Linked DNA regions of Homo sapiens: region 1 is linked to region 2. Evidence: fine-mapped expression QTL. A gene starts in region 2. The other region holds a variant in brackets. All regions are shown on one strand. Distances are from middle to middle.

Region 1 (5,466 bases), 29 kb after region 2:
AGAAGAAGCAGGCCATGCTGCTGCTGCAGAGAGCGCTGGTAACGCTGCTGGCACTGCTAATCCCGGGCCCTGCTAGCCTCCTACCTGCTGAGGCCAGGCCCACCGGTCCTAGCGCTTCCCTCCTCTGCCCACACCCTGCAGGCGCAGCAGCGAGACCTCACGGCCCGGCGGGTCAAGGAGACAGAGAAGGCGCTGAGCCGGCAGCTGCAGCGGCAGAGGGAGCACTACGAGGCCACCATCCAGCGGCACTTGGCCTTCATTGACCAGGTGAGCGGCCCGGGGAGCGCAGAGGCCCGGACCCAGCGCGTGGCTCATGGAGACTTCCAGAGCCAGGGGCTTCCCACTGCCAGGGAGCTTCTTCCTCTGTTGGGTGTCACACGGGTGTCCGCTGGACGCATTCCAAGCCTTTCCCATGCCATTCCCAGCCATGCATGCCCTGGAGAGGGCACTCCTGTCTTTATCCAGAGCCGCCCCGTGTGAGTGTAGTGGGGTGTCCTGCCGGCCCCTCAGCTCAGTCGCAGCCCCGGTTGGCTCCTGTTCTGAAGAGAAGAGACCTAGAGTTGGTCTGGGGTGTGTGAGAATAGGGGCCTCCAGGGCTGCTTGATAGTTGTCACAGGTGTGTCCTGACCTGGGGTCTGGCCTGGGGCCGGCAGTGAGGCTGGTGTGGTCCTGACACCCTTTGGCAGACAGTGAGCCTCCTCCAGGGCTGGGTGATGGCCTCGGCAGAGCTACCCTCATCCCAGGAAGACCCTGACATCACTGCAGGGGGTGGGCTGGGGCTTCTCTGACATTCGCCGGGTCCCCCAGCTGAGGACAGGACGGCGGATGCAGGCCTGGGCCCGTGTTTGCACACGTGCCCCCCCACTGGCCCCAGGGTCCATCCACAAACCTAGGAGGGGCAGCCCCAGGGGAGGGCTGCTGTTAGCCTCCCTCGGAGGCTGGGAGGGTCTCCTCCATCAGGGGTCCTGCTGGGCTGGGGCCTTGGTGTAGCACCTCACCTCCGGTCCCCAACACAGCTGATTGAGGACAAGAAGGTCCTGAGTGAAAAGTGCGAGGCTGTGGTGGCCGAGCTGAAGCAGGAGGACCAGAGATGCACCGAGCGTGTGGCCCAGGCACAGGCGCAGCACGAGCTGGTGAGGCTTTGCTCCCTACTGCACGGCGTCCCAAGCCCGGCTCACAGGCCAGGCTCAGCTGGCACAGCCCCCAGAACAGGACCGGACTTGGAGTCCTCATTCCTGTCTCGGTGTGTCAGGGCCACAGCGGTGGGTGGGGCTGTCTGGGGGAGCACCGTGGCACCGAGCTGGTCCACTCCTGCCTCTCTAGCTGCCAGGCTCTGGGGCGGGGCCGTGGGCCTGCTGTCACAGATGTGGACGCACAGTCCCTGCCCGGCCACAGCACGGTAGCCGTGGACCCAGGAGCCTCTGCCTGGTCTGCCCCACTGCCAGGTCCTTGGGCCATGGGACCTGCTCTCTCTACTGACCAGGTGTCGGTGGAGCATTGACTCCCCGCCCCTTCCCGCTGTGTGAGCTCCCTGGGGGCCTCAGCCTCCCTGGCTATGCTTCCCACCAGCTTGGGCAGTGATGGTCCCGAGCCCAGGTTCTGGAGTGGGGCTTGGCACTGGCATTTTAAAATCCCTGCACGTGACTGTGGCTGACAGCCGGGGTTGAGGACTGCCAGTCCCATGGAAGAATGCAGGCTCTGGGGCCGTCCCGACAGGCAGCAGCACCCCTCTCTGGGGCAAGGCCTCTGCAGGCTGATGGCTGCCCTCCCATGTCTCAGGCCACCAAGGTGTGTGGCAGGGTGGGCCTGGGCCTCCAGCCTGGCCCCGGGCGCTGGGGAGGGCAGCAGTGGCTCTGTCTCGGGGCAGCACACCCAACCATGAGTGCCGGCCTTGTGCTGGTGGACCTGGAAGCCCGGCCCTGACTGTGCCCACAGGGTGGCAAAGGGACGGGGGTGTCCTTCGTGTCGTTTCCTCCTGCCCTGTTCTGCTCGTAGGAGATTAAAAAACTCAAAGAATTAATGAGCGCCACCGAGAAAGCCCGCCGGGAGAAGTGGATCAGTGAGAAAACCAAGAAGATCAAGGAGGTCACTGTCCGAGGTGGGCCCTCCCCTCCCATGAGCCGGCCAGGTGTGGGGTGGGTGCTGCGGCCAGGGCTTCTTTTGAGAGAGCCATAACTTCAGGCATTCATGTAGTCCGAGACCTTCCTGGGCAGAGGTGAACACTCATGCCCCAACCACCCCCGTCACGGCCTCCGCTGCGGCTTCTGCCGTGACCCGGGGGGCAGGTGGGCTCCACACAGGAGCCTGGCCCAGCCCCCAGCATC[T/C]AGGCAGTTGCCTGAAACGAGGGGGCTCAGTGCCTCACTTCCTCAGGGTTGGGCTAGGGGAGATTGGGAGTTTGTGGACGACTGTGGCACGTGGGCCCTGCCACGGGAAGCAGAGTGAGCCACAGGAGGAGGCAGGGGCAGGCAGGCGGATGGGGCAGGAGGCTGGTGGGTGTTGTGGTCTGAAGGGGCCTCGGACCCTTGGGTGATGTGCAGGGCTCCCCGAGGCCTGGTCCTCTCGCTCTGGACACCTGCCAGGGTGCCTGGGAGCCGTCAGTGGTAGCACCAGGAGTGTCAGGAGCCCTGAGCCCCACAGGCTGGGAGAGGCGCCGTGGCCCTGTGGGGGTCTCTTCCCCACCTCGTGGGCGTCAAGACTCAGCTGTGCTTCGGGTTGGATCCAAGGAGGCCCTGGGTGGGCGGGGTCCCCTCTGGGCCTGAGACAGGCTGGTCTTGTGCCAGGGTTGGACTTCCCGGGCCCACCCTAGCTGGACGTGGCCCTAGCTGGTGCCCCGCCCCCAGGTCTGGAGCCCGAGATCCAGAAGCTGATTGCAAGGCACAAGCAGGAAGTGCGGAGGCTCAAGAGCCTGCACGAGGCGGAGCTGCTGCAGTCGGATGAGCGGGCCTCGCAGCGCTGCCTGCGCCAGGCCGAGGAGCTGCGGGAGCAGCTGGAGCGGGAGAAGGAGGCGCTGGGCCAGCAGGAGCGCGAACGTGCTCGGCAGCGGTGGGTGGTGGCCCCAGGCCGGTGGGGCCAGGACCCTCAGGGCGGGGAGTCGGAATCCTCGAAGGCTGGAGTGGAGTTCCCATGTAGAGGTGGGCGAGGGTCTTAGTGCAGCATGCAGGGAGGACGCAGGGCCCTTGGCCCTGGAGTGGCCCTTGGGGGCCCAGCCTCAGCCGGGCCAGTGTCCTCGGGCTTGTGTCTGCAGTTCATGCCCGCCGAGGTCTGCAGGTTCTGCATGGGTGCACGGGTGTTTTCCCAGGGTCAGGGCTGGGAACCCCCACCAGACATCCACTCTTTCACAACTGGCCCCAGAGCAGCAACCCGTGGATAGGCGGCCTCGAGGCCCCTCCAGCTCTGACCTTGGGGCCCAGGGACGGTCTCTCTCATTCACTCCCTTGGCCTGGGGTCTGAGGGGTGACTGCTGCTCTTGCGTCCTGAGCCCTGGGGGCTGGGGACGTGCCCAGTGGTGGTCAGGATCTGCGGGCCACAGGGGGCAGTGGCAGCCCCTCCTGCACTGTCTGCGCCACCAGGACAGCCTGGAAGCCACCCTCTCCTATCCACCCTGTTGCCTGTCGTGGCTGGTCCTCCCCAGATGCAGCTTGGCTGGTCCCCCAGTCTCTCCTCGAAGGTGGGGTCAGGACGAGGCCCTGGCGCGAGCTTGCTCAGGTCACGGAGCCAGGCACCTGGCACCCTCAGGCCGGAGGCAGGGGAGGTGGATAAGGCCCCACGAGGCACCTGCCTCCCGCCCTCCATGCCCGTGGGGCAATGCTGAACAGGGTGAGGCCGGCACACGGGCTGAGGGAAAAGGGGGCCTGGACGCGGCTCCACAGCCACTTCCCAAAGTGCCACGAGGGCCTGGAGCTCAGGGAATTGCTGCGCTTGGCTGATGGGCAAGTTCCTCGTGGCCTTGCCTGCCCCCGGGCGGTGGCTTTGAGGGGCCTTGACTGCCGAGGGGGAGGGGCAGGGCCCCGGAGGGCTGCTCTCCAGCTGTGAGTCAGGCCTGTGGTCGGCCCGTGCCCCTGCGGTGGGTGGGTCCTGGGACCGCCCGTCCCGGCCCCCGAGAGCCAGTCCTGACCGTCCCGCAGGTTCCAGCAGCACCTGGAGCAGGAGCAGTGGGCGCTGCAGCAGCAACGGCAGCGGCTGTACAGTGAGGTGGCTGAGGAGAGGGAGCGGCTGGGCCAGCAGGCAGCCAGGTGCCGCCCGGGGGCACCACGCCCTCTCCCAGGGACCCCTCGCTGGCTGACCCCTCCCCCCCGCCCCCTCACCCGCTGACCTCTCCCATCCCTGACTCCTTACTCGATGACCCCTCACCTGCTGACTCCTCCCTGGCCGCAGGCAGCGGGCGGAGCTGGAAGAGCTGAGGCAGCAGCTGGAGGAGAGCAGCTCTGCACTGACCCGAGCCCTGAGGGCTGAGTTTGAGAAGGGCAGGGAGGAGCAGGAGCGCCGGCACCAGGTCTACCACCGGAGGGCTGTGCTGGGCCTGGCCAGGGGGCTGCACGGGGTGGGACTGACTGGCCTCTTATGTCCGCCCCCCAGATGGAGCTGAATACCCTGAAGCAGCAGCTGGAGCTGGAGAGGCAGGCGTGGGAGGCCGGCCGCACCAGGAAGGAGGTGGGGGCCTGGGCACCCAGGTGGGCAGGGGTTGGGGGCTGCCCTGCGTGGGCAGGAGTTGGGGGCTGCCCCAGGTGGGTTTTGCTGCTGCTGTGGCATCCTGGGGGCTCGTTTCTGGGAGTCACATCTGGCTGCTTGGGGTTGTTGTCTGAACTGACGCTGAGTGTGTTGCTTTCAGCCCATCTTTTGCGTGGGCTCTGGAAGGATCAAGGGTGCCTGGAGCGCATCCTCTGTGGTCCGAGAACAGGCGTTGCCCCTCTCGCTAGGGGCTGCTACACCCCTGCGCCCCACGACCAGCCCACTGACACTCAGATGTACCGAGAGGGACACGCACAACAGGGGCTCCCCCCTTAGCCTCTGGGGCCTTCTGTGGGGGGTGGACTCTGCCACGGTGACAGTCCCACACACATTCTCACCACCCATGCCCGCCGCGAGGCTACAGTCCAGGCTGACCGTGCCCGTCACCTGGTTTCACACCCTGGTGGGCTGGGATGTCACCGAGCAGCCAGGCAGGCTTTGGCAGTGGATGCCTCTGGGCCCAGTAGCATGCTCCCGACGTAGCCCTGTGGGGCCCAGGGCTGGACAGATGAAACTCTGGGAGTTTTCAGAGGCTTCCAGGAGGCTGCCAGCTTAGGCTCTGAATGCCTGGGCTTGGGGGCCCAGGCCCCGCCCTCAGCAACACGCAAGTCCAACTTTCCCATCCCATCTGGTAGCAGAAGGTGGCCTCAGGTTGTCATGGGCTGTGGGTCTCTGAGGGAGGGGACCGTGGGCTGTGCATCATGACGATCTCTGGTACGCCTATGCCCACACTGGGTC
Region 2 (5,226 bases):
TTAGAAAGGAAGAAATAAAACATACTATTCACAGAAAACAGGATTGTAGAAAATCCCGTGAAATCTACCAAAAACTTCCTAAGACTAAGAAGTGAGTTTAGCAAAGACACAGGCTCCAGGGTAAATATACTAACATCAGTTACACTTTTGTAATAGCAATAAACAATTGGAAATTAAACCATAAAAAACTACCATCTGTAATGGCACTCCAAAAATGAAATGATTAGGTATAAATTAGAAAGATATATGTAGGATGTGTATGCTGAAAACTTCAAAGTACTGATGAAAGAAATCAATGAAGATCTAAATAAGTGGAGAGATATACCATGTTCATAAATTCTGGTGTCAATTCTTCCAGGTTACAGGTCTACAGATTTAATGTAATCCCCATCAAAATCACAGCTGGATATTTTTTAAGATAGTGACAAGCTGAAACTCAAATTTATAGGAAAAGTCAAAAGAATTTGGATAGCCTAGGTAATTTGGAGAAAGAAGAACAAAGGACTCAAAACCTGATTTCAGGATTGACTCTAGGCCAGGTGCAGTGGCTCATGCCTGTAATCCCAGCACTTTGGGAGGTGAAGGTGGGAGAATTGCTTGAGCCTAGGAATTTGAGACTAGCCTGGGCAACATGTGAGACCCCATCTCTGCAACAACAACAACAACAAAAACACTAATCAAGACAATGTGGTAGGCCGGGCGCGGTGGCTCACGCCTGTAATCCCAGCACTTTGGGAGGCCAAGGCGGGCGGATCACGAGGTCAGGAGATCGAGACCATCCTGGCTAACACGGTGAAACCCCGTCTCTACTGAAAATACAAAAAAATTAGCCAGGCGTGGTGGCGGGCACCTGTAGTCCCAGCTACTCGGGAGGCTGAGGCAGAAGAATGGCGTGAACCCGGGAGGCGGAGCTTGCAGTGAGCTGAGATCGCGCCACTATGCTCCAGCCTGGGCAAAAATGCGAGACTCTGTTTCAAAAAAATAATAATAAATAAATAAATAAATAAGTAAACAAATAAAACCAATCCCTGACAATACCAAGAGCTGAGGAGGATGGGGAGCAACTGCAACACCTGTGGCACTGGTGGGAGCGTAGAGCTGTACAACTTCTTTGGAAAATAGCTTAGTAGGCCGATGTGGTGGCCCACGCCTGTAATCCCAGCACTTTGGGAGACCGAGGTGGGTGGATCACCTGAAGTCAGCAGTTCAAGACCAGCCTGGCCAATATGACAAAACCCTGTCTCTACTAAAAATACAAAAATTAGCCTGGCATGGTGACATGTGCCTGTAATACCAGCTACTCGGGAGGCTGAGGCAGGAGAATTGCTTGAGCCCAGGAAGTGGAGTTTGCAGTGAGCCAAGATCATGCCATTGCACTCCAGCCTGGGCGACAGAGGGAGACTCCATCTCGGAAAAAAAAGGAAAAAAAAGAAAAAGAAAATAGCTTGGCGGTTTCCTTTTTTTTTTCTTTTTCTTTTTTTTGAGATGGAGTCTTGCTCTGTCGCTCAGGCTGGAGTGCAGTGGTGATCTCCGCTCACCGCAATCTCTGCCTCCTGGGGTCAAGCGATTCTCCTGACTCAGCCTCCTGAGTAGCTGGGATTATAGGCAGACGCCACCAGGCACGGGTAATTTTTTTGTATTTTTACTAGAGACGGGGTTTTGCCATGTTGGCCAGGGTGATCTCGAACTCCTGACCTCAGGTGATCCGCCCACCTCAGTGTCCCAAAGTTCTGGAATTACAGGTGGGACCCACTGCGCCCGGCCGGCAGTTTCTTATAAACAATCATTTGATCCAGCAACCCCACTCCTGGGTATTTACACAAGAGAAATGAAAAGTTGTGTCCACACAGAAGCCGATGAGTGAATGTTTATGGCAGCGTCATTCATAATTGCCAAGCACCAGGAACAATCTCTGCGTCCTTCATTTGATGAATAAAACCATCAATAAATAAAACCATCTGAACCGGTGGTTCACACCGGTTACAGGATACCACTCAGCAATAAAGAGGAACCAGCATGAATCTCAAAATGCGAAGTGGTAGAAGCCAGACCCACAGGCGCGCTGCGCGACATCCCTTTTGTGTGACATTCTGGAAAAGGCTGCCTCTAGGGATGGAGAACAGAGAGAACTGAGCAGCCGCCACCAGCAGTCAGCAGGTACGGGATCCGGAGGGAGAATGTTCTGTAACTAAAGTTACACAACTCCACTGCACACCAAAAAATGTGGATTTTACTGAAACCAAACTTTTTATTTTACAGAGCACTGGACTTTTTAAAAAGCGGGGGCAGGGGAGACCAGTGTGCTGTGACTTTTAGGGGAAGGATGGCTTCCCTGGAGAGGACCTGGGCGGAATCCCCAGGGCTCCCGGAGAGAGGGGGAGTCACAGAGCGGCTACGCACGGGGCGCAGCGTTAAAACTTTGGAGAAGGAAAAAAAACAACAAAGCAGCGCGAAGGGAAGGAGGTCAGGGAGGTTAGCAAGGCGCCCACACGCCCTCGCAGTCGTACTGAGTAACGAGGGGAGTCGCGCACGTGGGTGGGGACAGAGCGGCCTAGGACACTGGGGGAGCCCCGGGCCGCGGGAGTGCGGCGGCCTGGGGGTGTCGGGGAGCCGAGCCGAGGCCGCGTGCTCCTCGCGCCCTCCCTGGTGTCTCCTCCCCAGGCCCTGCGTGCCCCGCCCACACCTGCCTTGCCCCGCCCACATCTGCCTCGCCCTACTCGCCCATCACACCCCCACCTCACGCCCCGCCCACAACCGCTGGGGCCCCGCCCCTGCCCGGCCAGCTCCTCCCGCCGCCCTCGGTCCCCCGCCCCCTATATGACCCGCCCCTTTCCAGCCGCGTCCAATCGGCCGCTCTCTGTAGTCGCGTCCCTCAGCCATCCGCCGCTCCTCCCACGCTTGAACTTCCCGAAGGACAGCCGAGCGGCCCAATGAGCTCCCGGGACGGCCTGAGCGGGAGCGTGAAGGGCCAATCCGGAGTCGGCGCGCGCAGGAAAGGCGGGCCGGCGTGACGGGCTGGGGAGGTGGTGCCAGGCTGGTTGCTAGCTGCCGCCGCTGCTCACCCCGGCCGTCCGGCCGCTTCATTGTCACCGGGCCTCGGGGCAGTGTTGGGGGTGGCGGGGCGCCAGGTCGCCGACCCGAGGTTTGGGCGCGACTGGTTCCGCATCCCCTCCCCGCCGGCCGAATCTGCAGGCCCCGCGCGCCAGGCAGGCTTCGCGGCTGCGCCCCCGGCCCGCGCAGGTGAGGGGGGCCCGGGCAAGGGAGGGGGTTGCAGGGCGCACGGAGGTTGGAGGGGTCCGGAGCCCGCGCAGGTGGGAGGCCCTGGTCCAGTGATGAAGTGATGGGGATCCGGGGCACGCACAGGTGAGTGGGGGGATCTGGTGCCCGCGCAATTGAAGGCGGGATCCGGGGGAAGTGAGGGGGATCCAGGGTGCGCACAGGTGAGGGAGGTCCGGGGCCCGCGCAGGTGAAGACAGGCTCGTGCCTGAGGGTGTGGGTCCCCACCTCCATCCCCTCCACCCTCTCCACCTCCCTCCACTCCCCTCCGGTCCCCAGGACAACATGGAGTCCAGTCCCGGCATCTCTGGCCCGGCTGCCTTAAGCCCTGGGGAAAATGGGGAGATGGGAGCTGCCCTGAGGACAAGTGGAGGGCTCTGCTCTGCGCGTGGGCTCTGGCCTCTCTGTCCAGGGTCAGGGTCAGGGTCAGGGTCAGCCCACCCTGGGAACCAGGTCCTGGCGCTGGTCATCAGTCCCCGCCCCTTCAGGTCCTGGGAGGGACACAGTTTTATCCAAGATGTAGTGGCCTCCCAGGCCTCCCTTCTTCTGGCTTGGAGGTTTCCATGGAGAGGCCCCGTTCGCCATCCCAGAGCCGCTTGCAAGTGTGGCTGGGAGAGCAGAGTCCTGGGCTCCAAGGGCTTGCATGGGTCCAGCCAGGGGTGGACAGTGCCCTGCAGGAGGAGGGTGTTAAGTTTCTTCCGCACAGCCGGAAGTGCATAACTGAGGACTGGGACCTGGTCAGTGGCAGGGTCAGCCTCTAGGGAGTAGGGGTATCCATCGCTCCGTGGAAGGGACCTTGGGGGACCTGCTGTGGGGTGCCGGGCTGAAGGAAGCCCAGGGTGACCTTGGGCGATAGGCTGGGTGCCTGCTGGCCTACTGGAGGCCACCGTGGCAGGGAGGTAATTCTCGAGGTTGGTCCCTGGCGCCAGCTTCTCCCGTTCATCTACGGGTTCAGCTGAGTGCCTTTCCCTGCAGGTGCTGGGGTTGCTCAGGAGCCACACAATTCATAAACCAACTGTGTGCGGCCACAGGAAGGGAGTCCGAGCCGGATGGGGAGTGAAGAGTGATGGGTGCTCAAGGAAGGCCTCTGAGTGCAGGGAGGGAGTGTCCTGAGACCTAGAGGCAGGGGACTGGCCGGGGCCAAGCTGGCTGAGTTTGAGGAGAACCAGGGAGGCTGTGTTGGCTAAAGCCACAACAAAGGGGCACAGCAGGGGAGCTGGCGAGGTCACAGAGAGTACAGGGCCAGATCTTGCAGGAGTTGGATGTGTAGACTTTATTCTCTGTGCCTAGGAAGCTGTTGCAGGGTTTTTGGCAGGGGCACATGCACGAGCTGAGACCCGTTCAGAAAGATCAGAAAGACTCGTTCAGAAAGAGGTGCCATGTGGGGACGGGCTGGGGGCCGGCAGGGTTTGCTCTGAGAAGTTCCAAAGTAAGGAAGCCAGCATCCCCAAGCTAATCCCCTCGATCGATCGTCAGAACCCCCGTCCCCTGCTGGAATAACACATTACCCAGGGAGTGTTTGCCCGGTGCAGCCTTGAGGCCTTGAGACCAGCATCTTGTCTGGACCTCACAAAACCACTCCCGCGTTTTTTTTTTTTTTTTTTTTTTGAGATGGAGTCTCGCTATGTTGCCCAGGCTGGAGTGCAGTGTCACGATCTTGGCTCACTGTAAACTCCGCCTACCAGGTTCAAGTAATTCCCCTGCTTCAGCCTCCCAAGTAGTTGGGATTACAGGCGCTCGCCACCACGCCCGGCTAATTTTTTGAAGTTTTTAGTAGAGGTGGGGTTTCACTGTGTTGCTTAGGCTGGTCTTGAACTCCTGAGCTCAGGCAATCTGCCTGCCTTGGTCTCCCAAAGTGCTGGGATTACAGGAGTGAGCCACTGTGCCCGGCCAACACGCAACCCCTTTTTAAAATGTGTATTTTTACTTAGGGGCCGGGTACGGTGGCTC

What was found. PIP is the estimated chance that this variant, and not a neighbour inherited with it, causes the effect. A credible set is the group of variants that fine-mapping cannot tell apart.
Region 1: its variant is the best candidate, but not a certain one, in a credible set for the expression of CEP131 in esophagus mucosa (GTEx, PIP 0.67).

What each region holds. Positions count from the first base shown.
Region 1 is chr17:81,191,502-81,196,967 of GRCh38, reverse strand. It overlaps CEP131 (centrosomal protein 131), which reads left to right. Exons shown (of 26, transcript NM_014984.4): 14 at 1-38; 15 at 142-267; 16 at 1,017-1,133; 17 at 1,996-2,098; 18 at 2,841-3,042; 19 at 4,125-4,232; 20 at 4,375-4,492; 21 at 4,576-4,650. Among named protein-coding and RNA genes, the nearest start is that of AATK, 28 kb to the right of the region's middle. RefSeq lists an enhancer at 3,332-4,049. The variant T/C (reference allele first, on the strand shown) is at 2,325.
Region 2 is chr17:81,220,783-81,226,008 of GRCh38, reverse strand. CEP131 (centrosomal protein 131) reads left to right here and starts at 3,044. Exons shown (of 26, transcript NM_014984.4): 1 at 3,044-3,240. RefSeq lists silencers at 2,452-2,821, 2,982-3,311 and enhancers at 2,673-3,342, 3,343-4,012, 4,013-4,683.